3 separate regions of the Homo sapiens genome follow, and regions 2 and 3 are each linked to region 1. The links come from fine-mapping of genetic effects on gene expression. A gene starts in region 1. Each other region holds a variant in brackets. All regions are shown on one strand. Distances are from middle to middle. Region 1 holds the start of SERTAD3 (SERTA domain containing 3). Region 2 overlaps SHKBP1 (SH3KBP1 binding protein 1). Region 3 holds the start of MIR6796 (microRNA 6796).

Evidence for each region. PIP is the estimated chance that this variant, and not a neighbour inherited with it, causes the effect.
Region 2: its variant is fine-mapped to the expression of SERTAD3 in whole blood (TOPMed, PIP 0.95).
Region 3: its variant is fine-mapped to the expression of SERTAD3 in whole blood (TOPMed, PIP 0.97).

What each region holds. Positions count from the first base shown.
Region 1 is chr19:40,438,722-40,448,710 of GRCh38, forward strand. It overlaps SERTAD3 (SERTA domain containing 3), which reads right to left and starts at 5,614. Exons shown (of 2, transcript NM_203344.3): 1 at 5,494-5,614; 2 at 2,123-3,365. The coding sequence starts at 3,359. The coding sequence ends at 2,769. It overlaps SERTAD3-AS1 (SERTAD3 antisense RNA 1), which reads left to right and starts at 5,796. Exons shown (of 2, transcript NR_187496.1): 1 at 5,796-5,907; 2 at 6,169-6,542. It overlaps BLVRB (biliverdin reductase B), which reads right to left. Exons shown (of 5, transcript NM_000713.3): 5 at 9,047-9,325. The coding sequence ends at 9,168. RefSeq lists silencers at 4,461-4,840, 5,306-5,365, 5,546-5,865, 5,926-6,145.
Region 2 is chr19:40,581,539-40,591,527 of GRCh38, forward strand. It overlaps SHKBP1 (SH3KBP1 binding protein 1), which reads left to right. Exons shown (of 18, transcript NM_138392.4): 10 at 813-928; 11 at 1,860-1,947; 12 at 2,063-2,179; 13 at 5,236-5,406; 14 at 7,086-7,241; 15 at 7,544-7,640; 16 at 8,706-8,884; 17 at 9,192-9,315; 18 at 9,438-9,859. The coding sequence ends at 9,669. Among named protein-coding and RNA genes, the nearest start is that of SHKBP1, 9.7 kb to the left of the region's middle. The variant C/G (reference allele first, on the strand shown) is at 4,377.
Region 3 is chr19:40,363,174-40,373,162 of GRCh38, forward strand. It overlaps PLD3 (phospholipase D family member 3), which reads left to right. Exons shown (of 13, transcript NM_012268.4): 2 at 2,545-2,757; 3 at 3,246-3,337; 4 at 3,437-3,511; 5 at 3,600-3,742; 6 at 4,523-4,706; 7 at 6,735-6,855; 8 at 6,937-7,064; 9 at 8,500-8,700. The coding sequence starts at 3,311. It overlaps MIR6796 (microRNA 6796), which reads left to right and starts at 6,673; the gene lies at 6,673-6,734. RefSeq lists a silencer at 4,773-4,938 and an enhancer at 8,609-8,903. The variant C/T (reference allele first, on the strand shown) is at 4,230.

The DNA.
Region 1 (9,989 bases):
TTCAAGACCAGCCTGGGCTACATGGCACAACCCCATCTCTACAAAAAATACAAAAATTAGTCAGGTGTGGTCCACGTGCCTGTAGTCCCAGCTACTTGGGAGGCTGAGGCTGAGGTGGGAGAATTGCTTGAGTCCATGAGGTGGAGGTTGCAGTAAGCTGTGATTGTACCACTGCACTCCAGCCTGGGCGACAGAGCCAGAGACCCTGTCTCAAAAGAAAAAAAAAAAAAAAAAGGCACTGAAGGTTTCAAGGAGGAAGACATGATTCAATTGCCATCATATTGGGATGCAGACCTGGTTGCTTACCTTTTATTTTTATTTTTTACAATTCCACAGCAAGTATCACACCTGGTTGCTTTTTTTTTTTTTTTTTTGAGATGGAATCTCGCTCTGTCACTCAGGCTGGAGTGCAGTGGTATGATCTCAGCTCACTGCAACCTGTGCCTCCTGGATTCAAGTGATTCTCCTGCCTCAGCCTCCTGAGTAGCTGGGACCACAGGTGTTTGCCACCATGCCCAGCTAATTTTTTGTATTTTTAGTAGAGACAGGGCTTCGCCATGTTGGCCAGGCTGGTCTCAAACTCCTCACTTCAGGCAATCCTCCCGCCTTGGCCTCCCTAAGTACTGGAATTACAGGCCTGAGCCACCGCGCCTGGCCTGTACCTGGTTGCTTTCTTTAGATCCTCTGGGCCACCTCATTCCTCTCTCTGGATTGGCACCCACCTCTTCAGGTTATCCCTCCACTTTCTGACAATGACCCCTTCAGGTTGAGAAATCTGGCTTTGACCCAGAAACCACAAGCAAAATCCCCATCCTTTCTCCACCCATGGACTATACTCAGGTGTTGTTCCTCCTCGCAGCCCTTCCAGAAAAGTCCCTAATGCTGTGTAGCTCACTTGCTTCATCTCTTCAAAGACCATTGTAAAGGCATAGCCTGTACAGGTATCACATTACCTCTTCCTTCACTTCCTTCACCTCCTTCTCCTCTCCTGTATCTCAGCAGCCTGGGCTCGTACCTCCGAAATAAAGCATCAGCACAGGTCAGGCACAGTGGCTCATGCCTGTAATCCCAGCACTTTGGGAGGCTGAGGCAGGCGGGTCACTTGAGGTTAGGAGTTGGAGACAAGCCTGGCCAACATGGTGAAACTGTCTCTATTTTAAAAAAAATACAAAAATTAGCTGGGCGTGGTGGCAAGCACCTGTAGTCACTGCTATTCGGGAGGCTGAGGCAGGAGAATTGCCTGAACCCGGGAGTGGAGGTTGCAGTGAGCCAAAATCCTGTCATTGCACTCCAGCCTGGGTGACAGAGTGAGACTCCGTCTCAAAAAAAAAAAAAAAAAAAAAGCATTAGCACTATAAATCTAATCTGGGCTCTGCTTCCTAGCCAACTCTCCTAAAGAGGTCTTTTAGTACTGGGGGTCTTTGGGCATTTTCTTGCCCCTCTGGGCTCAGCAGCACATTCAGTGACACATACTCCGTGTGACTCAGTTTCTCCCTCCTGTGCCCACCCACGTGGCTGGTTAGTCTAAGAAGCAACATTTATAATAGTGAAGGACAAGGCTCTGGAGGCCATTTCAGCCTAGCTCCCTGGTCCTTGTTCTTCCTAGCTGTGTGGCTCTGAATTAAGTGACTTGTCCTCTCTAAACTTCTGGTTCCTCCTGTATAAAAAGTGGTAACAGTACTTACTTCTATATGAGGATTAACAGACTTAATTCAAATAAAGTGGCTAGAACAGTGCTCTTAACAAGCACTAATTTTTTTCTGAGGCTGGAGTGCAGTGGTGTGACCATGGCTTACTGCAGCCTCAACCTCCCAGGCTCAGGTGATCCTCCCAACTCAGCCTCCCCAGTAACTGGGACTACAGGCCGCCATGCCTAGCTCCTTTTTGTATTTTTTGTAGAGGCAGTGTTTCGCCACATTTCCCAGGCTGGCCTCAAGCAGATCCTCCCAAAGTGCTAGGATTCCAAGTGGGAGCTAGAGCACTCAGCCAACAAGCACTCAATAAATGTCATGTACAATGATACACCTACCCCAGCTATGGCACGGAAGTGGTGCTGATGTTTAGGAACTTACCAGGTCCCTCCCACTGACCCAGTGAAGTTTAGAAACATTAGACAACATCCCTCCTTCCAAAATACTTTTATTTAAAAAAATTACAAACAATCCAAAAAAAAAAAAAAAAGCCACCACAAACTCTGCCTTTCTTTTAAATAACCCGGCATGGAGCAGTTTGGTTTCCACCCTATTGCACGTGGTCCGGCCTGGTTATGAAATCAGGAGGCTGCTGAGACTGGGGTCCTGCCGAGGAAGTGGGGTTCAGCCTGGAGGGAGGACACCAGCCCCTCCCACCCCCTCAAGGTGCAAGAGGCAGAGCCTGGGTTTCTATAGCAACCTGGCAGCACATCCCTGTCATCCTTCGACAGGCCCAGCTTTCTTTATCTTCCCTGAGGCCCCAGTGGTCACAGGGGAGTGGGAACTAGCAGGAAAGGTGGAAGAAATGTGTAAGTGGAAAATCAGACTCCCAGAAACAGAGTCTCGTTAAGGCATTTGGAATAGATAAATTAATTCAGGAAGACCCACCTTCACAGAAGGTCGGGGTAACCAGACACACACACACATGCAAGACAGTTTGTGGAACCCTGAAATGGGAACAAAGGAGGCCATAGTCACTGCTTCGAGCCCCCACAAAAACACACACCCAGAGTTGCATTCAGGGATCCAGGCCACCGAAGATGACATGAGGAAGGATCGATCCCCTCTATCACAGTTTTAGGACCCCAGAATGATTTCCATGATGTGATCCAGTTCATTCCACTCCCAAGAACCTGGGGCACAGAAGAGGTTGTGAGGAGGCTCTGGTGGGGCCCGTGCAGGCTCCTTTTCTACCGCAGATGTGTCAATGTCCAGAAAGAAGTCATCCAGGCCAGAGTCCCCCAAGTACCGGGAGCTCAGAGCTTCTAAGAAGACTGGATCAGGCTGGGGTGGCACTTCATTCTGGAGGCCAAGGGGAGTCACTGGATTCTGAGGGGGCTCAGTCCCATCCATGGAGGTGTCCAGCTCCCTGAGGATAGAGCCAATGGTGGCTGACAGGGAGAAATCCTCCTCGCCCAGGAAGAGGGGCTCGGGGGGCAGGGCAGGGGCGGGAGCCAGGCGAAGTGCAGCCTGCAGCTGTTGGAGGGTGTTATGGATGAGGACATGCCTGCGGAGGCTGGGTGCTCGGGGGCCCAGGCTGCGCTGGACTTTGTCTAGGGAGATGCGGAGCAGGGCTTGCTGGTAGCTCTGAAGGCCTGCTGGACTCCACTCCCACCTCTCCTCCTCCTCTTCCAAATCAGAGTGTTTCCTCTTCAAGCCTCCCACCATGATGCCCTGTAGAGAGAAGAGGCGCATAGGGGAAGGTCAGACACCAGACACCGTAGTGCTGGCTCATATCCCACTTTCTCAGGCCTATTGAGTTGTTAGTGATTTTTAATCATCGGAATCTCAGTTTACTGATGTATAAAATGAAGGCTGTCTGAATCCTACAAGTTTAAGAAGGTGAGTACATATACGATTAAGAAAATAAGATCTGGCGTTACGTACAGCTAGATTTAAATCTCACTTACTTGCCTGTTGTGGCCTCAAACAGTGAATTTACATCCATGAGAATCAATTTCCTCATCTGCCAAGTACGGATCCTAACTCAAGTTCCTCTAAGCCTTAAAACTGTTCTTCCACAATATTAATTTCTTCAAACATGGAGCACGAAAGACAAGTGTGGAGCACAGAGACCTGGATTGGAAGTAGGGAACCCCAAATCTGAATTCTGTATTGGAAACTGCTCAGCTGCGTGATCATGGGAAGTGATCTGAATGAGTCAATTCTCAGGGCCTCAGTTTCCTCATCTGTAAAATAGGGACTGTAAAAAAATACTTCTCACCACCTCTGTCAAGGAGATGCCACGTATCTATAGGGCCCACCACACCGGAAGTGCTTAATGAACAAGAGTTGTGTTTGTTTTTTGTTAGAGACAGGGTCTCGCTCTGTCGCCCAGGGCTGAGTGCAGCAGCGCTATCACAGCTCACTGCAGTCTCGAAGTCCTGGGCTCAAGCGATCCTCCCGCCTCAGCTTCCTGAGTAGCTGGGATTACCACCACACCCGGCCTCGATCAAGAGTTAATTGCCAGTTATTCGCTCAACAGATTTACTGAGTGCCTACTATATTCGAAATCTCCTGGAGCCCTGTTGGGGAACCTATGTTGAGATTCTTCTTCAACAGTCGGGATATTTCTATGTCCTCTTCCTTAACCGACTGGGAGCGCTCCCAAGAGTAGGAAAGGGGCCTGTCTCATTCCCTCTGCCCACGCTTTCAGATTCCCCCAAAGCGCGCCCCATAGGAAAACTTGCTAGAACTCAGCTCAGACCAAGCCCCGCCCCCTCGGAGGTCCCACTCAATCAGACCGCGACACTGTAAGGCCCCGCCCCCCCATGGGTCCTTACAGAGCATCCAGGAACGCCCCAATTTGGCCCAGGGGCTTCTGGGAAACGGGGGCCAACAGCCGCCAGGTACACGAATTGACGTCGAGCACGCACTACAATCCCCAGAGGGCTCCGCCCGTCCAGGGGACGAGCCACCCCCCTCACCCCGCTCTCCCTCAGGGCATGCGCACAGGGGCACAGGCGGGTGGGGGAAGGGAACCTGGACGTCCAGCTGCCGGCGCCTGCCGAGCCCCGCCCTCCATTGCCTCCGGGGCCGCGAGTCTGAGCTCCAGGCCCGGAACACCCCTCCCCCACCCCAGACTCCGGCTCTAAATTTGCTTTCTCCCGGTCCCTCTGTTCCTTGAAAGTCCGCGATTCTCCTTCCAAACTGCCCTTGGATCCAGAGACCCAGATCCGAACACATCGCTCAAAGACGACAATGCTCCGATCTAGTTCGGGAGACTACGTATCCTAATTCTGATACTTCCTCCCACTTCTCCTAGTCTCCTGACTTTCAAACGCCCCTGGACTTCACCTCCAAACTCGCTGTCCGGCTCCAAGACCCGAACATTGAACTCTTCCCGGCAACCTCCTTCCCCCGCCAGTGCGTCTTGGAGTCCCAAGAATCCTTGACCCTAGTTCTCTCGCTTCTCCAAATACTCAGAATCTCAGCTCCGTACCTCTCACACCTTTTCCAGAACACGATAAAGCCCCGAATTCAACCCGTCCGGAAGACCCAAGTGGAATCGAATCTCCAGGTTCCCTGTCTCAAAAGTTCCTCCCCTCTGTTCTCTCGCTTCTCCAAAAGCCCAACGTCCCAGCTTCAAACTCCCTCCACTTGAAAATACTGCCCCAACAACCTCGCCTCCCCTCCTGGGTCTTGAACTCAGTCTCAGGTCCCCAGACCCTCCCTATCATCACCCTGAATCTGAGGCCCCCTCCCCCGGTCCCACCCAGACCCCGCCTCCGCAAGTCCCCGGGGCGCGCTTCTCTCTCCCCCAGCCTAAGGTAAATTCCCAAGCCAGGCGACCACTCCTCACCGCAGCTGCCAGGTTCGCCACGACCACCTCCTGGAACGCCCACAGCGTTGCGACCCGCCAGTGCCAGGACCCACCAGTGACCGGTTGGAGCCTCGCTCACCTCGGCGGGGCCTCTCCGTCTGGCCTCTGGCCCACCAGCCCCGCCCCGGAGCCGAGCCGCGAGCCGCGATTGGCTGGAGTCCCGCCCGCCGCGGGGCGTCGATTGGCTGGGCGGAGCCATCCGCCCGTGCCCCGAGACGCCGGATCCGCCCACCCCTCCCTAGCGCCCCGGGCCATTTAAAGAAGTGCAACTGGCAGGGGGCGGGGCAGCGACTCCGGGGTGGAGGGCGGCCGGTCCAACAGAACCGCTTCCTTCCACTCAGCTACAGTCCTCGCTCCAAGATCGTCACCATTGCTCCCTGCGGTTCCTTTATGGTAGGCCTGGACTCCACCGTGGAGCCAGAGGGGCTGGCATGCCCCTCCCCAAGTCGCTGTGCAGGCGGGCGGGGCCGAGCAACCGGAGGAGGCCGCGCCCCCGGGGTTCCGAGGGAGGACGCTGGGGCGCGGGGGATGACGTAGCGGAAGACCAGCCAATAGAGTGGCGCGGCCCGCGTTGCCTAGGCGATCGTAGCCTCGCCCCCTTGCTGCCCCTCCCGCCCCCTATACGTTACCGCGCGGCCCCTTCTTAATCCTCAGGTTTTCTCAGCACGTCCTCTGGTGGTCCCACCTGGGTCTTCTGACACCCTCTTTCCTTCCCCGCTCCATCAAGATGACTCCTCTGCTACTGTTCATGGCTTCCTACCCACCCCGAATACAAACTTCAAACTCCTTCCTTTTGCCACAAAGCCCCTCACGACCTTGCTTGATGCGTTCTCCTGGTTCTCTCCGATCCTGCCCCATTGAGTCACTTCCAGTTTTTCTAAAATGGCTTCAAGCTCCCATTCACCCCATCAGGAAAACGAAAGGATTTTCTCTGTTTGTTTTCTTCCCTGCTTTACCCCAGTGTCTACAACAATGCCAGGTACATAATAAGTTCGCAAACATGACAATAAAAGGCCTCTGGATCTTTATTATTAATATTATTTTTTGCCGGGCGCAGTGGCGCACGCCTGTAATCCCAGCACTTTGGGAGGCGGAGGCGGGCAGATCACTTGAGGTCAGGAGTTTGAGACCAGCCTGGCCAACAATGGTGAAACCCCGTCTCTACTAAAAATACAAAAATTAGCTGGGCGTGGTGGCGCACGCTTGTAATCTCAGCCACTTGGGAGGCTGAGGCAGGAGAATCGCTTGAACCTGGGAGGTTGAGGTTGCAGTGAAGGCGAGATCGTGCCACTGCACTCCAGCCTGGGTGACAGAGAGATGGGGGAGGGGGGAGGGGGGTTTTCTTGTGTTGCCCAGGTTGGTTTTGAACTCCTGGCCTCAAGCAATCTTCTCGCCTCTGGATATTTAAACTTGTTTCCTCATCCTCAAAATATACCCTCAATTCCCAGGCTGCTTCTCAGAACACATTTCAAAGGTTTCCTCCTCTCCGAAGCCCTCCCTGGCAGTCCAGGTTGGGTTAGGATCCATTCTAGGATTCCATGGCCTCCTGTGCCGCCATCCCAGTCCTGGACTGTCAGTTACTATATGGACTGAGGAACGCCCCGCCGAGGGCAGGTACCAAGGATATCTCTGTCAACCACCTCTTGGTCTGCAGGATCACCTAGCACAGGGCTGGACACGTAGCAGGTCCCAGTGAAAGTTTGCTAAATGCTCAGGAATGTGACAGAAAAATAAGGCAGAAAGAAGACACTGCTAGTGTCCTGAAAGCCCACACCCGTAATGCTCCGCCCCTACAACGAGTTTCCCTAAGGGGAGGAGGCAGTTTTCTCCAGGCCACCTCTGGGAAGGGAGGTTTAAGCCTCCTCAGACCAGTTCTTGCCGGTTGGAGTTTGTCAACCAAGTCATCCTGATGTTTGCAGGATAAATGGGAGGGGAATAGGTAGGTGGGTGGTGTGGGTTGGAGGTAGGGAGAGAGAAGTGTCTTAGCTCACCCAGGCCTAGGGAAGGTGTCCCTGGGAAAAAAAGAAAGGGACAGTAGGTTCCAAAAAAGGACATAATTAGGAAGGAGCAATTCTTCCCCTTCCTCCTCCAAAACCTGCGCCTCCTATAGGGTCCACAACTCAGGAAAGCCCTACTGCATTTGGGTTTTTGTTTTTGAGACGGGGTCCCACTCCGTCGTGGATGCTGGAGTGCAGTGGCGCACCTTGGCTCACTGCAGCCTCAGCCTCCCTCCTGAAGCACTAGTGTAACTCTGTCCCCGGGTTACAGCCGTATGCTTCTTTCTGATGCCTCCCCTCCACCCCTCACCAACTGTCCACGCAGGCTCCCAGGCATTCCTCACACCCACTCTCTCCTCCCCTCCTTACAGTTCCTCCTCCAACTCCCTCTGGGCTATCAGCCTCCATTCCTGGACCCTTCCTTTCCACCTTCACAGAGTAGCCAAAGGAAGCTTCATAAAACACCCAACTGTCCCCCCTGCCTTACTTCTCTGGTGCTCCACTCCTTGCATAAATCCTCAAAATAAAGCACAAACTTTTTTTTATTTTCAGAGACAGGGTCTGGATCTGTCCTACAGGCTGGAGTGCAGTGGCCAGGCCTTGACCTCCTGGCCTCAAGCCATTCTCCCGCCTCAGCCTCCTGAGTATCTGGGACTACAGGTACACACCACCATGCCCAGCTAAGTTTTTAAAAATTATTTTGTAGAGATGGGGTCTCACTATGTTGCCCAACCTGGACTCCTGGCTTCAAGCCATCCTCCCACCTCAGCTTCCTGAGTATCTGGGACTATAGGTGCACACCACCATGCCCAGCTAAGTTATTATTATTATTATTATTGAGATGGAGTCTCGCTCTGTCACCCAGGCTGGAGTGCAGTGGCACAATCTCGGATCACTGCAACCTCCACCTCCCAGGTTCAAGCGATTCTCCTGCCTCAGCCTCCTAAGTAGCTGGGATTACAAGTGTGCATCACCACGCCTGGGTAATTTTTGTATTTTTAGTAGAGACAGGGTTTCACCATGTTCGCCAGGCTGGTCTTGAACTCCTGACCTCAAGTGATCTACCCGCCTCGGCCTCCCAATGTGCTGGGATTCCAAGCATGAGCCACCATGCCTGGCCAGACTCAATAAACTGTTACTGGGCGGGGCGCAGTGGCTCACGCCTGTAATCCCAGCACTTTGGGAGGCGAGGCAGGCGGATCATGAGGTCAGGAGATCAAGACCATCCTGGCTAACACGGTGAAACCCTGTCTCTACTAAAAATACAAAAAAATTAGCTGGGTGTGGTAGTGGGCGCCTGTAGTCCCAGCTACTGGGGAGGCTGAGGCAGGAGAATGGTGTGAACCTGGGAGGTGGAGCTTGCAGTGAGCCAGATTGCGCCACTGCACTCCAGCCTGGGCGACAGAGCAAGACTCGGTCTCAAAAAAATAAAAAAATAAAAATAAACTGTTACTGAACAAATGAATGAATGCATAACAAGCAAATCTTACACAGAGGCAGGCAGACACACCAAAATACTCAGACAGAGGCAGAGAGAGGAAGAGTCACACAGTCGGTTTCTCTAGAGTAATTTGAAGCTCTTGGCTCAACATTTATTGCCCCCTTCCTTTGCTCCTCATGTCCCAGAATGCCACCCTCCCAGATGGGGACAGAGTGCTACTGGTACTGGTGGGAGGGGTAGGTGCTGTGTCCGTCGTACTCATCGGTGGTGAGGCAGCGCAGCATGAAATGGCCCAGGTCATGTTTGGAGATGACCCTTGAGGGCCCTCGTCCATCCAGGGTCACTGTGTACGCCCCAGTTAGTGGCTGGTCTCCTATGAAGTAAAGACAAGAGGGGCTGGATAAAGCAGACACCTTTCCCTTCCCCCAAAATTCGACCCCCAGAAAGACCTTCCCAGGGTGCCTACTGTGTGTCCAGCCTGGGTGGTGTCACAGCCAAGAATGGACTTTCCATATGCAGGTGCTCATCTATATCCTTTGCTTCATTCATTCGATAAATCCTTATTGATTACCTATTGTGTGGCCAGGTGCTGGGCACCCAAGCAAGGGACAAAGCAGACAGGAATCCCCTGCCCTGGCCAGTGGCGGTGGCTCATGCCTGTAATCCTGGCACTTTGGGAGGCTGAGACAGGAGTATCACTCAAGCCCAGGAGTTTGAAACTATCCTGGGCAACACAGGGAGACCCTGAGTCCACTAAAAATACAAAAATCAGCCGGGTGCAGTGGCATGCCCCTGTAGTCCCAACTACTCAGGAGGCTGAGGCTGGAGAATTGCTTGAGCCAGGGAAGTTGAAGCTACAGTGAGCCATGATCGTGACACTGCACTCCAGCCGGGACGACAGAGCAAGACCTTGTCTCTAACAACAACAACAACAAATATATATATATATATATATATATATATATATATATTTGTCAGATAGATATATATCTGTCTATCTGACAGTAACCAACTAAACTTAGGGATACAATGTACCA
Region 2 (9,989 bases), 140 kb after region 1:
ACAAAAAAAGAAATCTCTGACTTATGGCTGGGCACAGTAACTCACATCTGTAGTTCCAGCACTTTGGGAGGCCATGGCAGGAGGATTGCTTGAGGCCAGGAGTTCGAGGCTGCCGTGAGCTATGTAAGCCATGATTGCACCACTGCACTCCAGCCTGGACAACAGAGCAAGACCCTGTCTCAAAGCCACAGCAACAAATCTCGGACTTATTAATCTGTCCCCAAATAAATCTCAGCCCTCGTAAGAATCCCCTGCCACCAGTGGAGGTTTTTTTGCCTTATTGCAAATCTCAGTGCTGTTAGAATTCCAGACCGTTTTAGAATCCCATACCCCATCAGAAATCTTCTGGCCCATTTTATCTTCTCTAATTCCTGCTGGAATCTTCACTTTTTTTTTTTTTGAAATGGAGTCATTCTCTGTTGCCCAGATTGGAGTACAGTGGTATGATCTCGGCTCACTGCAACCTCTGCCTCCTGGGGTCACGCAATTCTCCTTCCTCAACCTCCCAAGTAGCTGGGGCTACAGTTGTGTGCTACCACACTCAGCTAATTTTTATATTTTTTAGTAGAGATGGAGTTTCATCATGTTGGCCAGGCTGGTCTCAAACTCCTGGCCTCAAATGATCCGCCCACCTGAGCCTCTCAAAGTGTTGGGATTACAGGTGTGAGCCACTGTGCCCAGCCCCTGATGGAATCTTCTATCCTTCAAGGATTCTGTGGTCCCACTGAACCCTCTGGTCCTTGGAGTTCTTCCTCCCACCTCTCCTCCTCCATGAGGCAGGGTTCCAGCTGAGCCCTTTTTGCCCACTGCAGGGGTCTTTCATCTGGGGGTGCCTGTGGAGGCCTTGTTCTTCGTCGGGAACCAGCTCATTGCTACAAGCCACACAGGGCGCATCGGGGTGTGGAATGCCGTCACCAAGCACTGGCAGGTCAGAGTTCTGGCCAGCCTGGCTGCCCCCTTCCCAGTTTTCCAGACTGTACAGACCCAGGAAGGGGTTCACGTCTGCCCCCACCCCCACCCCCTAAGCCTGGAGGAAGCCAGAGAACCAGCAGCTGGCCAGAGCCTGGGGATGTCTGTGATAAAGGCCTAAGGAGCACCAGGGAAGCCTTCCTGGAGGAGGTGCTGCAGAGCCCACATGAAGCATGAATGGGTTTGAAAAGGAGTAGGGAGGATTGTCTTGGGACTGGGTGAGAGAGCAGGTTAGGGGGGATGCTGTAGAAGACAAGAACTGGCTTGGCTCGGTGGCTCACACTTGTAATCCCAGCACTTTGGGAGGCTGAGGTGGGAGGATGGCTTTGGGAGAAAGACAGACAGAGGCAGAGAAAGAGACAGAGAGGCAGAAAACCAGGCAAATAGAAATAGAAAATCAGAAAGAGGTGACAGAGAAGGGTAGACAGAGTCAAACCAGACTGAACCACTGTGGCAGATGGGGGAACTCAGAGAGATAAATGGAGATGAATTAGAGTCATGTCAGAAGTACATAGTGGAGGCCGGGTGCAGTGACTCCCGCCCGTAATCCCAGCACTTTGGGAGGCCGAGGCAAGAGGATGGCTTGAGCCCAGGAGTTTGACGCCAGCCTGGGAAACATAATAAGACTCTGTCTCTACAAAAAATTTAAAAAATTAAAACTTTAAAAAGTACAGAGTCCAGGAGAGGCCAAGAGTCAGACAGACAGATGCATCAAAGGGAGGAAGGGAGGGAACAAGACAGGGACAAAGGCAGGCCTGGGGTGGACGGGGCTGGGGAGCAGTGGGTGGGTTCTGGAGGTGGAGGAGAGGGCCCATCCTCTGTGAGGGGTCACCACGGAAGGAAAGGAATGGAAGGGCTCCCGGCTGCAGCCTGTCCTGCCCCACCCCCAGGTCCAGGAGGTGCAGCCCATCACCAGTTATGACGCGGCAGGCTCCTTCCTCCTCCTGGGCTGCAACAACGGCTCCATTTACTACGTGGGTGAGCAGCAGCCTGTGTCCCGGGTGCCCGAGACCCTCCCCTGGGAGAGGGGAAGGGAGGGAGAGAGGCTGGGGCACTTGGAACAAACCCGCTCCACCCTCCCTGCCCACCCCAGATGTGCAGAAGTTCCCCTTGCGCATGAAAGACAACGACCTCCTTGTCAGCGAGCTCTATCGGGACCCAGCGGAGGATGGGGTCACCGCCCTCAGTGTCTACCTCACCCCCAAGACCAGTAAGCTATGACCCGGCTTCCCCTGCTGCTGTCACCTGCCAGCCCCAGCCCCAGCCTGCAGCTGTCCCCCAACTTGTGTAGCATGACCCAGAGGGGTTTATCGAGGGGCGGCAGATTCAACTCTCTCTCATTTTTTTTTCTGAGACAGACTCTCATTCTGTTGCCCAGGCTGGAGTGCAGTGGTGCAATCTTGGCTCACTGCAACCTCCACCTCCTGAGTTCAAGCGATTCTCCTGCCTCAGCCTCCCAAGTAGCTAGGATTACAGGCGCCCACTGCCACGCCTGGCTAATTTTTGTAGTTTTAGTAGAGATGGGGTTTCACCATGTTGGCCAGGCTGGTCTTGAACTCCTGACCTCAGATGATCCTCCCGCCTCAGCCCCCCAAAGTACTGGGATTACAGACGTGAGCCACCGCGCCCAGCCAGATTCAACTCTCATCCAGTCATTCAACAAATATTTACTGAGTATCCCTGTATATAAGCACGTTCTAGGTGCTAGATGGTGGCCACCCTCTCCACTAGGGGCAGAATGGACCATTAGGAGTTAATCTTTGTGTTTCTTTCCCACCTTTGTGATTAAGGCATGATGTTCACATGTTCATAAAACAACACAGATGCAGGTTTTACAGCAGATGAACCTGAGTTCTCTTACTTGAGACAGTTTTTTGTTTTGTTTTCTTGACATCAAATGCAGAATGGGTTAATTTTTGAGACGTAATTCTCATACCATAAAATTTCCCATTTGAACGTGCACAATTCAGCGGATTTTAGTATATTCACAAGGTTGTACAACTATCACCATGAACAAATTCCAGAGTATGTTCATCACCCCCGTAAGAAACCCCCTGATCTTTAGCAGTAACTCCACATTTCTCACTTCTGATACCCTCTAGAAATCACTAATATGCTTTCTCTTTTTGTTTGAGACAAGGTCTCGCTCTGCTGCCCAGGCTGGAGTGCAGTGGCATGATCTCAGCTCACTGCAATCTCTGCCTCTTGGGTTCAAGCGATTCTCATGCCTCAGCTTCCTGAGTAGGGGAGGATTACAGGTGTGCATCACCATGCCTGGCTAATTTTTCTACTTTAAGTAGAGACTGGGTTACGCCACGTTGGCCAGGCTCAATATGCTTCCTATACCTATGGATTTGCCTGTTCTGGACAATTCCTGTAAATGGGATCATACATTATATGGTCTTTTGTGTCTGCATTTTTCACTTAGCATATTTTTTTAAATGGTTAGTGTTTTCTGGGTCTTAAGATATCCTTACCTATTCTAGGTTACAAAGATCTTCTCCTGAATTTCTTCTAGAAGATTTACAGTTTAGTTTTTACATGGAAGTCTGTTCTATCAGAAATTAAATTTTATGTATGGTGTGAAGCAGGGATTATTCTTTTTTAAAAAAAAATAGAGACAGGGTCTTGCTCTGTTGCCCAGGCTAGAGTGCAGTGGCATGATGTGAGTTCTCTGCCACCTCCGCCACTCGGGCTCAAGCGATTCTTCTACCTCAACCTCCTGAACAGCAGAACCACAGGCATGCATCACCACACCTGTCTAATTTTTGTATTTTTTTGTAGAGACAGGGTTTTGCCATGTTGCCCAGGCTACTCTTGAACTCCTGGGCTCAAGTGATCCTCACACTTTGGCCTCCAAAGTGCTGGAAATACAGACTTGAGTCACTGTGCTTGGCCATAGCTGCTGCTGCTGCTTTTCTTTTTTTTTTAAAGCAGAAATAAGTTAATAATACACCTAACTTCATGACACATTATCACCTTTCTTCTTTGTAAGGCCCTTTTCTTATTTCTTTTTTTTCTTTCTTTCTTTTTTTTTTTTTTTGTCTTTTCCTGAGACAGAGTATCGCTCTGTCATTCAACCCAGGCTGGAGTGCAATGGCGCAATCTCAGCTCACTACAACCTCTGCCTCCTGGGTTCAAGCAATTCTCCAGACTCAGCCTCCCAAGTAGCTGGGATTACGGGTGCCTGCCACCATGCCCAGCTAATTTTTGTGTTTTTAGTAGAGGCAGGGTTTTGCCACGTTGGCTAAGCAAGTTTTGAACTCCTGGGATTCTCCTCTCGTCGTCTCCCAAAGTGCTGGAATTACAGGCATGGGCTGCTGCACCCGGCCTCTTTCTTATTTCACTTACTTACTCATTTCCTCCTCATCTCCCTTCCCGCCACATGCCACTATTATGTCATTTTT[C/G]TTTGTTTTTTGAGACAGTCTCGCTTCGTCACCTAGGCTGGAGTGCAGTGGCGCAATCATAGCTCACTGCAGCCTCACCCCCTGGGCTCAAGTGATCCTCCTACTTCAGCCTCTTGAGTAGCTGGGATCATAGGTGAATGCCATCACACCCAACTAGTTTTTTAAAAATCTTTTGTAGAGATGAGGGTCTCACTATGTTGCCCAGGCTGGCCTCAAACGCCTGGCCTCAAGCAATCTTCCTGCCTCGGCCTCTGTTCTCTGTTTTACTTTCTCTTTCCTCTCTTATTTGCTGTTTCACTGTTACAATTTCTGTCTCTGGGCCTCTCCTCCTTTGACCTGTGCCTTTGTCTCCCTGTTCCTCCATTTCCCACATCTCATCACCATCTTTTTGTGTCCTTCCCTCTCTCCTTGCTTTCTGACTGTGTCTCTGTTCTGTGTCTCTTTCTTTCTTTCTTTCTTTTTTTTTTTTTGAGACAGAGTCACATTCTGTCATGCAGGCTGGAGTGCAGTGGCGTGGTCTTGGCTCATTGCAACCTCTGCCTCCTGGGTTCAAGCAATTCTCATGCCTCAGCCTTCTGAGTAGCTGGGATTACAGGTGCGTACTACCACCACCAGCTAATTTTTGTATTTTTACTAGAGACAGGGTTTCAGCACGTTGGCCAGGCTGGTCTTGAACGCCTGACCTCAAGCGATCCACCCGCCTCAGCTTCCCAAAGTGATGGGATTACGGCGTGAGCCACCGTGCCCGGCCTCTCCTTGCTTTCTGACTGTGTCTCTGTTCTGTGCCTGTTTCTTTCTCCCTGCCCTGGTTTCTGTCTCTGTGGCCCAGGCCCTCTCCTCATCCTTGGCCCCTCACCAGGTGACAGTGGGAACTGGATCGAGATCGCCTATGGCACCAGCTCAGGGGGCGTGCGGGTCATCGTGCAGCACCCGGAGACTGTGGGCTCGGGGCCTCAGCTCTTCCAGACCTTCACTGTGCACCGCAGCCCTGTCACCAAGATCATGCTGTCGGAGAAGCACCTCATCTCAGGTGAGCCTCTGTGGGGTGCTCCAGTGCTGGGAGAGACAGCTCAGATGGGAGTGTGGAGACAGGAGGATGAGAATTTCCACTGGGGAGGGACATTGTGTAGGAAGAGAGCTCTGGCGGAGAGGATTGACCTGGGATGGGACTGTAATTGCAGAAGTGAGAGAATACCATAGGGGATCAGTCTGGGGAAGAGTGAATCTGTGTGTGTTTGGGAATCCATCAATTCAGCAACGATTTACGGGGCACCCACCATGTGCCAGGCATAGGGGATACAGTGATGAACAAGACAGGCCAAGTCCCTGCCCTCGTGGAGCTGACATTCTAGCAGCGATGGCAGACAATAAATCTATAAAAATGGACATCAATGGCCAGCTGCGGTGGCTCACACCTATAATCCCAGAACTTTGGGAGGCCAAGGCGGGTAGATTACTTGAGGTCAGGAGTTCGAGACCAGCCTGGCCAACATGGTGAAACCCCACCTCTACCAAAAATATAAAAAATTAGCCAGGTGTGGTGGCACGTGCCTGTAATCCCCGCTACTCGGGAGGCCGAGGGAGGAGAATTGCTTGAACCTGGGAGGCGGAGATTGCAGAGAGCCCAGATCATGCTACTGCACTCCAGCCTAGGCAACAGAGCGAGACTCCATCTCAAAAATAAATAGATAAAAATGCAAATCAGGCTGGGCACTGTGGCTCATGCCTATAATCCCAGCACTTTGGGAGGCCAAGGTGGGAGGATTGCTTGAGGCTAGGAGTGTGAGACCAACCTGGACAACAAAGTGAGACATTGTTTCTACAAAAAATTTTTAAAAAATTAGCCAAGTATGGTGGCATGCACCTGGGGTCCCAGCTTCTTGGGAGGCTGAGGTGGAGGGATCACTTGAGCCCAAGAGTCAGGGGCTGCAATCAGCTATGATTGCACCCCTGCACTCCAGCCCAGGCAACAAAGCAAGACTCTATCTCATAAAATATTAATAAAATAATCTAAATCAACACCAGGCAATGATAAGGGCTATGAATAAACATGAAGCTGTGTGTGGCTAGAGAGTGTCAAGTCGCTGGAGAGGGGTCATTCAGGGAAGGCCTGAGGAAGGACCTTTGAGCAGAAATAACAGAATGAGCAGTGCAGATTGGTAGGGACAAGCATTCAGGCCGAGGGAACAGGCATTGCAAAGGCTCTGAGGTGAGAGGATGCCTGAGGAAGTGCAGGGAGCCACTTGTGCCTGGAACAGAGTAAATGAGGGGGAGAATGGGAGGAGATGAGGGTATGGAGGTGACAAGGGCAGGAGCCACAGAGGGCTCCGAGCAGGGGAGGGACATGACTAGCTTCAGGTGTTCACAGGCTCCACCTGGCTGCCCGTGGGAGCACACTACTGGGATAGGACAGGAGCAGGGACCTCTGGGAGGGGCGTGCTGATACGGTCCAGGCAGGTGACGAAATGGACCAGGACCGGTGTGGGGCAGAGGATAGGGCAAGGTGAGATCAGGCTCTGGAACAGTTTTGGAGGCAGAGGCAACAGGGTTTTTAACATTTGGAATTCTGGGGAGGAAAGGATTCTCTGAAAGGGAAGAACTCAGCAAGGGCTGACCCTCCTGAAACGGGGCTGTCCTGAGGCTCTGGACGGGCAGGCAGCATTGATGCCTGCACCAGGCCTGACTTCCTGCTCTCCTTGTGCCCCTCAGTCTGTGCCGACAACAACCACGTGCGGACATGGTCTGTGACTCGCTTCCGCGGCATGATTTCCACCCAGCCCGGCTCCACCCCACTCGCTTCCTTTAAGATCCTGGCTCTGGAGTCGGCAGATGGGCATGGCGGCTGCAGTGCTGGCAATGACATTGGTGCCTACTGGCTCCTGGCCTTCCCACCCCACTGACCCCCTTACCTGACCCCTGTTGACCTCCGCTGATTCCCACTTGCGGCCACCTGACCCAGGAGCCTGCAACGATTGGGGTGTCCTGATCCTTGAGGCACCTGAGCTCCACTGACTGCCACAACCCCCCAGCCCTCTCTGGCCCTGCCCAACTCTAACAACCTGGGGATGGGACTGGGGTCTTGGGGTGGTGGGTTTCATCAGTGGGGAAGGAAGTCTGAGGCTGAGGGAATCCCAGCTGGCCCTGACCCCTGCCCCTGCCTGGCCCAGGCCCCTACGGTGAGCGGGACGACCAGCAAGTGTTCATCCAGAAGGTGGTGCCCAGTGCCAGCCAGCTCTTCGTGCGTCTCTCATCTACTGGGCAGCGGTGAGGACAGTCCTGTCCAACAGGGAGGGAGGACAGTCCTGTCCAACAGGGAGGGAGGTCAGGGGAGAAGGCAAGATGCTAGCCAGATCACTGAGGCCAGAAAGGGGTCCCAGCCAAGGAGCATTGAAGGAGCAAAGGCTGGGAGGGAGGACAGGCCTGGTAGGTTTGTCTTCTGGTATCAAAGGTGTGACAGGTGTTGGTGGGACTGACCTGGCGCAGTGCCAGCCCAGTGCAGGCAGGGCCAGGTTGAAGGCACAGGGGGTGGGGTCAGGGTGGGATGGGGGGCCCAGGCGGAGGGGGAGGGGTGGGATGGGGGCCCAGGGGGAGAGGTCGGGGTGGGATGGGGGGACCAGGGGGAGGGGTTGGGGTGGGATAGGGGGACCAGGGGCAGGGGTCGGGATGGGATGGAGGAGACCCAGGGAGCTGTAGGAGCCTTGCTTCAGCTGGGAAAGGGGCCTCGGAGGATGTTCTGGATGAAGGGACTCTGAGCAGAGACCTAGAGGACAAGTAGGAAGGAGCAGAAGAAAGAAGGCAGGGGAAGGGGGCCCCAGCCTGAGGGAACTGTATGTGCAGAGGCTGAGAAGGGCCAAATAGGGTCACATGGGAAGGACACGTGGGCTCCTGGGCTGGAGCACAGAACAGGAGGTGAGGATGGGGTGCAGATGCGGGCGGGCCTTGTCAGGCTGTGGAAGGGCTGAGGCTTTGTCCTGTGCGGGGAGCCGTGGCCACTGCATGGGGGATGAAAGGAGGCTTGATGGGAGGCCAGGAGCCCAGGGAGGAGGCCAGGAGGCTGATAGGAGGTGGGGGAGCAGCTGGGACGGGCCTCAGGTCTTCCCTGCAGTGGGAGCAGGGAAGAGCAGAAGCTCTGGGAGACTCCCTGGGTGTTTGGGGCTGCGGTGTCCAAGAGCTGCTGGACCCTTGGGACTGGAACTCAAAAGCAGGCTAGGGATGGATAAAGATTGGGATGGCCCCTGGAGAGGCAGGAACTGCAGCCACAGTGGTGGGGACTGGGACGAGGAAGGGTGAGAAAGCGAGGGTGACCACCTCCCCCACTGCACCCCCCAGGGTGTGCTCCGTGCGCTCCGTGGACGGCTCACCCACGACAGCCTTCACAGTGCTGGAGTGCGAGGGCTCCCGGCGGCTCGGCTCTCGGCCCCGGCGCTACCTGCTCACTGGCCAGGCCAACGGCAGCTTGGCCATGTGGGACCTAACCACCGCCATGGACGGCCTCGGCCAGGCCCCTGGTACTCCCTGCCCCACCCCAATCCCGTCCCAAGCCCCACAGCCTCACCCAGAACCACTCTCCACTGCCAACTGCTTGATCTCTCTCCCAGGCCCTTGCCCTCTGACCCCTTTTCCTTTGACCCCCTCTCTGCTCCCCATCCCTTCCTGCCCTTGTTTTTCAACCCCTGTCTCAGCCTCTGGCCCCCATGCATTGATCTCTGCTTCCTCTCTCCTGTCCTGACCCTCGGTGCTTGCACTGCAATGCAACCCAGGCCCTTGCCCTATGACCCCTGTCTTGCCCCCTGACCCTGCTTCCGTGCCCCCCAGCAGGTGGCCTGACGGAGCAAGAGCTGATGGAACAGCTGGAACACTGTGAGCTGGCCCCGCCGGCTCCTTCAGCTCCCTCATGGGGCTGTCTCCCCAGCCCCTCACCCCGCATCTCCCTCACCAGGTAGCCACAACTCCACTGCCCCTTCTGTGCAATGAGGGGAGAGGGGACAGCATGGTGTTCCCGGGGACAGAGTGGCCCAGCTGCCCCGTGATGACGTGCACTTACTGTCCTTACTTCCTCAGCCTCCACTCAGCCTCCAGCAACACCTCCTTGTCTGGCCACCGTGGGAGCCCAAGCCCCCCGCAGGCTGAGGCCCGGCGCCGTGGTGGGGGCAGCTTTGTGGAACGCTGCCAGGAACTGGTGCGGAGTGGGCCAGACCTCCGACGGCCACCCACACCAGCCCCGTGGCCCTCCAGCGGTCTCGGCACTCCCCTCACACCTCCCAAGATGAAGCTCAATGAAACTTCCTTTTGAACAACGCAGCTGCCATGATGCCTTGGGATGCCCTGGTCCTGGGGGACTCAGGTGCCTCCCTGATTCCTGTGGGAACCCCGGGTTCAGGGCCAGGGCCTCCTTGGAATAAATGGTTATTGTTACTAGGTCCCCACCTTCCCTCTTTTCTGGAAGCCAAAGTCACCCTCCCCAATAAAGTCCTCACTGCCAACATCTTGCTTATTCTTAGCAGGTTTGGGACTCCCCAGGAAAGGGGTGGGGAAGATGTGGGACCCAACCCGATATATGCAAAATCAGGAACATCTACCTCTCTTGTTTAAGCAAAGGGAGGCCAGGCATGG
Region 3 (9,989 bases), 76 kb before region 1:
TCTTCATCTTGGCTTCCCTAATTTCACATTGCCTGCTGTTCCAACTCCATATTCTTCAATAAAAATATGTCTCACCAAGGCCTTCAAAGAAAATTGAAGACAAGCATTTCCTGCACTCCCTCCTGCCTCCTCCACCCACAATGTTGTGGTCAACCGCCTCTAAGACTGATGTTATCTTCTGCTTCTCCTAGTGACCTCTGGAGTTTCAAATAACCTTAGTCTGTTGCTGTTTCTTGCTAGATTTGTTTGTTTGTTTGTTTGTTTGTTTGTTTGAGACGGAGTCTCGCTCTGTTTTAACCCAGGCTGGAGTGCAGTGGCGCAATCTCAGCTCACTGCAACCTCTGCCTCCCAGGTTCAAGCAATTCTCCTGCCTCAGTCTCCCGAGTAGCTGGGATTACAAGCGCCCGCCACCACGCCCAGCTAATTTTTACATTTTTGGTAGAGAGAGGGTTTCACCACATTGGCCAGGCTGGTCTTGAACTCCTAACCTCAGGTGATCCACCCACCTCGGCCTCCCAAAGTGCTGGGATTACAGGCGTGAGCCACCACACCCGACCTGCTAGATCCTTTTTAGGCATCCCCATTTGTCTTCCTGCCATGAAAAGAGGGGATCTAGCATGTTCTACCCTCGCCAGTCTGGGATCTGACATTGGTAGGGAGGAGTTTGCAAGTTATCCCTACAAATCTAGGTTGGATCTTGGAGTAAGGGGAGCACCTAGCTCTGAGAGTTTTCTTTTTCTTCTTTTTCAAAAAAGAGTAATGCGCGCCCCTGATTTTTTAAAAGGTAATGAAACTGGTGACGCCTGTGTTTGCTTTATAATTATTTCTCAACCTACACCGAGATATTTTCTATACTTCTCTGAAAATAGCTTATGTTTCACAATTTTAAAAAAGAAAATAGGCTGGGCACAGTGGCTCATGCCTGTAATCCCAGCACTTTGGGAGGCCAAGGCAGGCGGATCACGAGGTCAGGAGTTCGAGACCAGCCTGGCCAACTTGGTGAAACCCTGTCTCTACTAAAAATACAAAAATTAGCTGGTCGTGGTGGCAGGCGCCTGTAATCCCAGCTACTCGGGAGGCTGAGGCAGGAGAATCGCTTGAAACCACAAGGCGGAGGTTGCAGTGAACCAAGATTGTGCCACTGCACTCCAGCCTGGGCAAAAGAGCGAAACTCCGTCTCAGAAAAAAGAAAATAGGGGCCAGATGTGGTGGCTCATGCCTGTAATCTCAGAACTTTGGGAGGCCAAGGTAGGAGGATCACTTGAGTCCAGGAGTTCAGCCTGGGCAATAAGCAAGACCCCGTCTATACAAAATTAAAAAAAAAAAAATTAGCTGCGGCTGGGCGCGGTGGCTCATGCCTGTAATCCCAGCACTTTTGGGGGCCTAGACGGGCGGATCACGAGGTCAGGAGATCGAGACCATCCTGGCTAACATGGTGAAACCCCATCTCTACTAAAAAATACAAAAAAAAAATTAGCCGGGCATGGTGGCGGGCGCCTGTAGTCCCAGCTACTCGGGAAGCTGAGGTGGGCGAATTGCTCGAACCAGGGAGGTGGAGGTTGCAGTGAGCCGAGATGGCGCCACTGCACTCCAGCGTGGGAGAGACAGAGCGAGACTGCGTCTCCAAAAAAAAAAAAAAAAGCAGCTGGGCATGGTGGCACGTGCCTGTAGTCCCAGCTGCTTGGGAGGCTGAGGCAGGAGGATTGCTTGAGCCTGGGAAGTTGAGGCCGCAGTGAGCTATGATCATGCTGCTGCACTCCAGCCTAGGGAACAGAACTCTGGCACTAAAAAAAGAAAAGAAAAGAAAAGAAAATAGGCTTACAATAAAAAGCAATCTTGACCTACCCCAAAATCCCACTCCCTTGAAGACAACCACTTCTGCCCTGTTGCTTCTCTCAGTAATACTCCTTTTCTGCAGTTATCTCTTGACTTCCTGCCATGTGTGTTTGGGGGAGCTTGAGGGAAGAGGGTGTCCCTGTCTCATTGAGAGAGGTGCCACCCTGCCGTGAAAAGAGGTGCCACCCTCTGTCAATTAGGAGAGGAGGGATGAGAGAGGAAAGGGGTCTCCAGTGTATTTCTCCAGCCGGGGCCTTAAATCCCTCTTGGGAGATATGGGATGGGGTGGATCGGAAAATAAATTTTTTTAAATCCCTACCAAAATATCAGCTGGCTTTTTTTAAAAAATCAAATACCAAAATCTAAATAGACTCCAACAGAAAATTCACCATCTCCTCTGACCTTTTCTTCCCATCTCATGCTGTGAACTGTCTTCTGTTGACTTTATCGCTACCTTTCTTCATTCTGTTATTCAACCATGATCTCTCCGTTTCATTTTATAAGCGTTTTATTAATTTCATTTATGTATTTATTTTTGACTAGGTAATGCATGTCCATGGTACACAAATTCACAAGGTTTGTAAATGAGAAAAGACGTGAGGTTCCTTTTGTTCTTTACCTGTGGCCTCCCTGCCCTACACGGGGACTCTAGGGTGGAATGTAGCAAAGCCCATCCACCAGCCATGTACTACCCCCCAACCCGGCCAGGCTGGAGCGACCGTGTCTGGGGAGCCGAGCCCCGCTTCTCGCTGCGGTGAGCCCGGACTGGGGCACGCACTGCGCAGACTCCCCGCTGCAGTGGGCGGAGCTCCCACAGGCCCCGCCCCCTCCTCCCACCCTCGTTCAGCCTGTCCAGACAGAAGCTGGGGCCCACCGGAGGTAGCTGCAGACGCCTGAGAGCGAGGCCGAGGCCCCTCAGGGGTAGGTGGGGGGAGGCTGGCTGGGGGGATGGGCAGCGGGGTGGCAGGGAGGCCCCGATGATCCCTGGCTGAGCTGTGTGGTGTGGGGGCACCTGAGGGCGGAGGAGCCACCTAGAATATACCCCCTGTCCCAGGGCTGAGAAAAGCCAGGCACAAAGACCTGGGGCTCCGCTGACCTCATCCAGCGCTGCCTTTCTTGGGGTGTCTACAGGTTGGAGGAGGGAGAAGGGGGCTGCTAGAGGGGAGCTGCGTGGGTGCTGATGGGGGCAGGGTGGGCACTGCAGAGTGAAGAGCAGGCAGCAGAGCGTTGGATTTTGAGGGATTTCGAAATCCTGCTGACCAGTGACCAGCTTCCTCTTTTTGGGGTGGTGGGCAGTGTGCCAGTGGCCCCCATGATTATGAATAGCCCCAAGACTAATCACTCTTCTGTGATGTCTGTCCCTGGAAAGCGTAGAACACCCCACACAGTGCCCACTTTTGTTCTGCCAGTTTGGAGACCCTGACACACCCACCTTCTCACCTGGGCTCTGCGTATCCCCCAGCCTTGAGGGAAGATGAAGCCTAAACTGATGTACCAGGAGGTAGGTGGATTGGGGGGCTCAGCAGGGTGGAACTGGGTACAGTGGGGGTGGGGGTTCCCAAGAGCCACCTGTCACCCCCGTTGTTGTCCCCATCCCCAGCTGAAGGTGCCTGCAGAGGAGCCCGCCAATGAGCTGCCCATGAATGAGATTGAGGCGTGGAAGGCTGCGGAAAAGGTAGGAGCCCTCCGCCACCCTCGCTCTGTCTCAGAGACAGGCTGGGCTGCCCCCCTCGGGCTGGCTGACCACCTCCTCCTCCCCACAGAAAGCCCGCTGGGTCCTGCTGGTCCTCATTCTGGCGGTTGTGGGCTTCGGAGCCCTGATGACTCAGCTGTTTCTATGGGAATACGGCGACTTGCATCTCTTTGGGCCCAACCAGCGCCCAGCCCCCTGCTATGACCCTTGCGAGTAAGTGGGGGGTGCTGCAGTTGGTGGGGGAGGGGCCTGCCAGACCAGGTACACTTAAGCACACACTAAACAGGGCCTGCACTCAGCCCTACCCAGCGCTTGCGACAAGTGAGGAGGTTGCAGGCTCCCAAGTGCTCGCCCGCCCCCTCCTCCTCCACACACATAGTTTCTATGGCAGCCACAGCGTCATCTTCTGTCAGGCCTGTGAACAGACACAGCATCTTCCACCCACATCTGTGGACCCACACACACATCTCAATACACGACCTTCCTTCCACACCTCTAGACAGACACGCAGAGGATCATGAGTCCAGGCACGCATTCAAATACACACAGTTTTAAAAAATTTTTTTTAAAAGAAAAGAAAAACTCAAATACAGTTTAGCTGGGCTTGGTGGCTCACGCCTGTAATTGCAACACTTTGCGGGGCTGAGGCGGGAGGATTGCTTGAGCCCAGGAGTTCCAGACCAGCCTGGGCAATGTAGTG[C/T]GGCTCCATCTCTACTAAAAGTAAAAAAAGTAACCAGGCATACTGGTGCACACCTGTAGTCCCAGCTACTCAAGAGGTTGAGGCGGGAGGATCGCTTGAGCCCAGGGGTTCGAGGCTGCAGTGAGCTGAGATGGCGCCACTGCGCTTCCAGCCTGGGGGACAGGGCAAGACTCTGTCTCTAAAAAAAAAAAAATACAGTCTATCCAACACACCCATGGACGGACAGCTGAGCACTCACCTCCCAGCCCTTGCTCTCCGGCACCGTATGGCTGATAGCATCCCCCACCCCCCAGAGCAGTGCTGGTGGAAAGCATTCCTGAGGGCCTGGACTTCCCCAATGCCTCCACGGGGAACCCTTCCACCAGCCAGGCCTGGCTGGGCCTGCTCGCCGGTGCGCACAGCAGCCTGGACATCGCCTCCTTCTACTGGACCCTCACCAACAATGACACCCACACGCAGGAGCCCTCTGCCCAGCAGGTACCTGCAACCTTGGCCCTGGCCGGCAGCAGGGGCAGGGGGTGGGAGGCAGCGGGGGCTGTGGGGAATGAAGGGGTTTCTCCTGCAGCCCAGGAGACAGAGGGGTGTGTCTCACACAGCAGATTGGACACAGGTGTTTGCAAGCAGCTGTCGTCACGTGGCTCTCTGGACTGGGGGCGTTTGTCACGGTCATCTGTAGGCCTCTGAATGTCAGGGTGCGGGTTTGGTTACAAGGGATTATTAGGCTGGCAGATGTCACTCACCCACAAGCTGTCCTGACCCAGTCACACAAAGAAAGGGAAGAGTGGAGTAATTAACAGCCCAGCCTCAAGACAGGGGCCACCTCCCAGCTGTGTGACCCCAGGCAGGCCACCTCTTCTCTCCAGCTTCAGTTTCTTTATCTGTAAAATGGGGCCAATTTATAGCACCTGCTTCTTAGGGCTCTTGTGAGGATGAAATGGACTAATCCATGCAAATTTTAGCACAGTGCCTGGCACAGAGTCAGCCTTTGTGAGTCTGCTGTTACTATATATCCTGGTATGGTCTGCAGACAAACTTAAAGAACATAAAAGCTTCACAATTTGAAAAGGAACAGCCTACATGGATAACCTCTTCCATTGAAAAACCATGAATTTGTTCCTTCTGTTTTCTTCTCCCTACTGGCTCTTTTTGTGAGAAGTTGTCTTAAAACTTAACTAAAATTACAAGGCTCCTTAAGAACTGCCTGAAAAAAATAATTATGGCCAAGTGTGGTGATTCACACCTGTAATCCCAGCACTTTGGGAGGCCTAGACAGGAGGATCACTGGAGCCCAAGAGTTCGAGACTAGCCTGAGCAACATAGTGAGACCCGCCCCCCACCTCCCCTCAACCATCTCTACTAAAAATAAAAAAAAATTAGGAGGGTGTTGTGGTGCATGCCTGCAGTCTCAGATACTCAGGAGATGGAAGGAGGAGGATGGCTTGAGCCCAGGAGTTGGAGGCTGCAGCGAGCCGTGATCATGCCACTACACTCCAGCCCAGGCAACATAGCAAGACCCTGTCTCAAAAAAAAGAAAAAGAAAAAGTAATAATAATAATTACAAAAGTTAAAAACCAAAGCCAGGCATAGTGGTACACACCTGTGGTCCCAGCTACTTGGGAGGCTGAAGCAGGAGAATGACTTGAGCCTAGGAATTGGAGGCTGCAGTGAGCTGTGATCATGCCACTGCACTCTAGCCTGGGCAACATAGTGAAACCCTGTCTCTAAAAAAAAATTTTTTTATGTTAAAAAACCGTATGAGCTCCCACTCCCTGCTGGCTCCCTCTAAAGTGGTTTAAAACACAGATGTAGGAGGCAGATGGTCTGGGTTCAAATCCTGCTCCATAGCTGGATGTGGTGGTGCACTCCTGAGGTACTAGCTACTTGGGAGACTGAGGCAGGCGGAATGCTTGAGCCCAGGGATTGAAGATCAGCCTGGGCAACATAGCAAGTCCCTGTCTCAACAAACAAACAAACAAAAAAACAAAAACAAAATCCCACTCCACTACTGAGTTCTCTGTGGGGATTATAATTAAACCAGCCTCACTGGGTTGTGAGAATTCAGTGAGTTCGCTGAGAAGAGGCCTAGAACAGGGCCTGGCACACAGTAGGTTCCAGGGCATCCTTGACTGTTGCTGTTGTTGGCATCATCGTGCCTCACCCGATACCTTCCAGGACCCCCTGCCTGAGCCTCGCCCCCACCATACTGGGAGATGCCTGGAGGCCCTGCCTTGATGCTGAATTTTGAGAAAGTCCCTGGAGGGGCAGGAGGGGTCAGGAGGACTTGGAGGGGGATCACAGGGCAACTAATTATTAAAGCAGATAAAGATGTTTAAAACAGATAAGGAAGTCTTTTAATATTTTAATCTGTAAAGTCTTTAATCTATGCAGGCTAATGTAAAGTCTGTTTACTCCTAATCATGTCTCAAAATAACTCCACCGGGCATTACCTTGTGGGGTTGGAGAGCTGGCTGGTCCAGCCCCTCAGAAGCTCTCCCCTCCCCGCAGGGTGAGGAGGTCCTCCGGCAGCTGCAGACCCTGGCACCAAAGGGCGTGAACGTCCGCATCGCTGTGAGCAAGCCCAGCGGGCCCCAGCCACAGGCGGACCTGCAGGCTCTGCTGCAGAGCGGTGAGCTGGGGCCCAACTGGGGCTGGTCTGGGCCTGGGGGTACCCAGCCTGGCCCCTGATCTCTGCCCCTGCTGGTCACAGGTGCCCAGGTCCGCATGGTGGACATGCAGAAGCTGACCCATGGCGTCCTGCATACCAAGTTCTGGGTGGTGGACCAGACCCACTTCTACCTGGGCAGTGCCAACATGGACTGGCGTTCACTGACCCAGGTCTGTCTGCACCCTGTCTACCTTCCTTCCAGGCCACTCCCTGCCCCACAGGGCACCCAGCCTCCGACTGCATCCCTCACTCAATCCAGAGTCCTCTCCACCCATTCTCTGTAATGGCTTCCTTCTTGCCTCCTACCAGGCCTCCCTAATCCAAGCCATGCACGGTGGCTCACACCTATAATCTCAACACTTTGGGAGGCCAAGGTGGGAGGATTGCTTGAGCCCAGGAGTTGGAGACCAGCCTGGGCAACATAGTGAGACCCCATCTCTACCAAAAAAAAAAAAATAAGCCCGGTGTGGTGGCACACACCTCTGGTCCCAGCTCCTTGGGAGACTGAGGTGGGAGGATCACTTGAGCCCAGGAGTTTGAGGCTACAGTGGGTTGTATTCATGCCACTGCACTCCAGCCTGAGTGACAGAGTGAGACCCTGTTACAAAACAAAGAATCCCTAAATGGAGCCCTCTACTGCCCTCCCCCTGCTCCTGGAAGCCTGGGGCTCCCTCTGATCCCCAATTGCAGCTACCAGCCCCTCTACATGGCATTCAAGAACCTGCGCACCCATTTGATCTTCATTGTACATCTCTGTGTGCCTGCTCTAAGTCCAGCCCTATCCTGGGTAATGTTGGGAACATGGTGGTAACAGATGGACCTCATGGAACTCCCAGCCCAATGCAGACTGGCCTGTCACCTGACAGTGACAGCCCAGAGGGGTCAGGGCCGGGGTTGGGGAGACACAGGCAGAGGGTCAGGGCCAGGATGGAGGGAACAGAGGGCTGTGGAAGCTCAGAGACCCCAACCTGGGGCATTGGAGGGTTTCCCAAAGGAGGTATAACTAATCTGATCCCTGAAGGATAGGGAGGAATTAGCGCAAGATGGAACAGGAAACAGCTTGGGCAATGAGGTGAAGATAAGACAGGACAATAACTCATGAATTCATTTCCTCAACAGATAGTTCCCCTAACCTTTAATCTCAGCAATTATGCAGGGAGATGCTGTAGATATAGCTGTGACTGAGACATCCCTAGTGCCTGTCCTCCCAGCCCAATGGGAAGACCAGTTTGTCACCAGAAAGAATGAGGAGGGAATCCCAAGGGACTGTGAGAGCCCAGAGGAATGCCTGGTGCAGGCTGGGTAGTCATGGGAGGCTTCCTGAAGGAGGCAACATGTCAGCCTAGACCTAAGAATGAGTAGAAGCTAGCTCAGTGGAGGGTAGAAGCAACAGCAGATTGCAAACGTTCAGGAAACCTGGAGCTTTGGAATAACTGATTTTCATCAAAACTTAAGTTGATAATCATTCTAGGACTTTAGCTATTGGAGCTGGGGTGGAGGGGGTACTGTGGGACAGGGGGAAAGACAGAGACCAGACTGGGGAGTGTCCCTGTCATCTGTGAGCACTAGGCCGCTATCGCTGAGCTCAGCACTGCCCTCCTACAGGTCAAGGAGCTGGGCGTGGTCATGTACAACTGCAGCTGCCTGGCTCGAGACCTGACCAAGATCTTTGAGGCCTACTGGTTCCTGGGCCAGGCAGGCAGCTCCATCCCATCAACTTGGCCCCGGTTCTATGACACCCGCTACAACCAAGAGACACCAATGGAGATCTGCCTCAATGGAACCCCTGCTCTGGCCTACCTGGCGGTGAGTCTGGGGCAAGTGGGGCCTGTCATGTCCCAGCCCCATGCCGTCACTCACAGCCTCCATCTGTCCCTGTTTGGTGATGACAGGGAGGGCGTATCCTGACCATCAGTTCTCACCCCAGCTCATTCTGCTTGGTCAGGGGCCTGGAGTAGTTCCCAACATCCCTCGGCCTCTATTTCAGTTAGAAAATGGGTATTGTTTCCAACCTGTTAGGGCTGCTGGGAGAGGTACCCTGGGTTCATGCACACCAAACCTTTGGTGCTCTATATCATCCAGTATAGCCACAGGTGGCTCTTTCAGTTTAAGTTAATTAAATGCAATTAACAATTCAGGCCAAGTGGGGTGGCTTATGCCTGTAATCCCAATACTTTGGGAGGTTGAGGTGACAGGATCACTTGAGGCCAGGAGTTTGAGACCAGCCTGGACAACATAGCAAGACTCCATCTTTACAAACAAACAAACAAACAAACAAAACTAGCTGGGTTGGGTTGTGCATGCATGTAGTCACAGCTACGCAGGAGGCTGAGGCAGGGGGATCACTTGAGCCCAGGAAATCTAGGCTGCAGTGAGCCATGATCACACCACTGTACTCCAGCCTGGGTGACAGCCTGTTTCAAAAAAAAATTGTTTCAAGCCAGGCATGGTTTCTCATCCCTGTAATCCCAGCACTTTGGGAGGCCAAGGCCAAGATGGGAGGATCACTTGAGGCCAGGAGTTCATGACCAGCCTGGGCAACATAGGGAGACATCATTTCTTTCTATTTTTTTTTTTTTTTTGGTCTTATTATTTATTGTTCTAGATAGGATACCCAAGAACTAGGGAGACACCATTTCTACAAAAACATAATATTAATTAAAATTAGCCGGGTGTGGTTGTGTGCACCTGTAGTCCCTGGGGAGGCTAAGACAGGGGGATCACTTGAGCCCAGGAGTTTGAGGCTGCGTGAGCTGATTGTACCACTGCACTCCAGCCTGGGCAAGAGGCTGTTGCCCTGTCTCCAAAAAAAGAAAAAATTCAGTTCCTCATGCAGTAGCCACATTTCATATGCTCAGTAGCACCTGTAGCAAGTGACCACCATATTGGACATTTCCATCACTGTGACAGGCTCTGTTGGACAACACTGGCTCTCGCCATGGCAGATACTGATCACTCTGGACAAGGCACTGATGTTTCTAGCTCTTGATAGTTTCACTAGTTGAGGCAGGCAACCCAGGTCTCCCTAGGTCCCCCTGAGCAAGTTACCTGTCCAAGCCCAGAGTCATCGTGGAAGGCACAACCCTAAGGCGTGG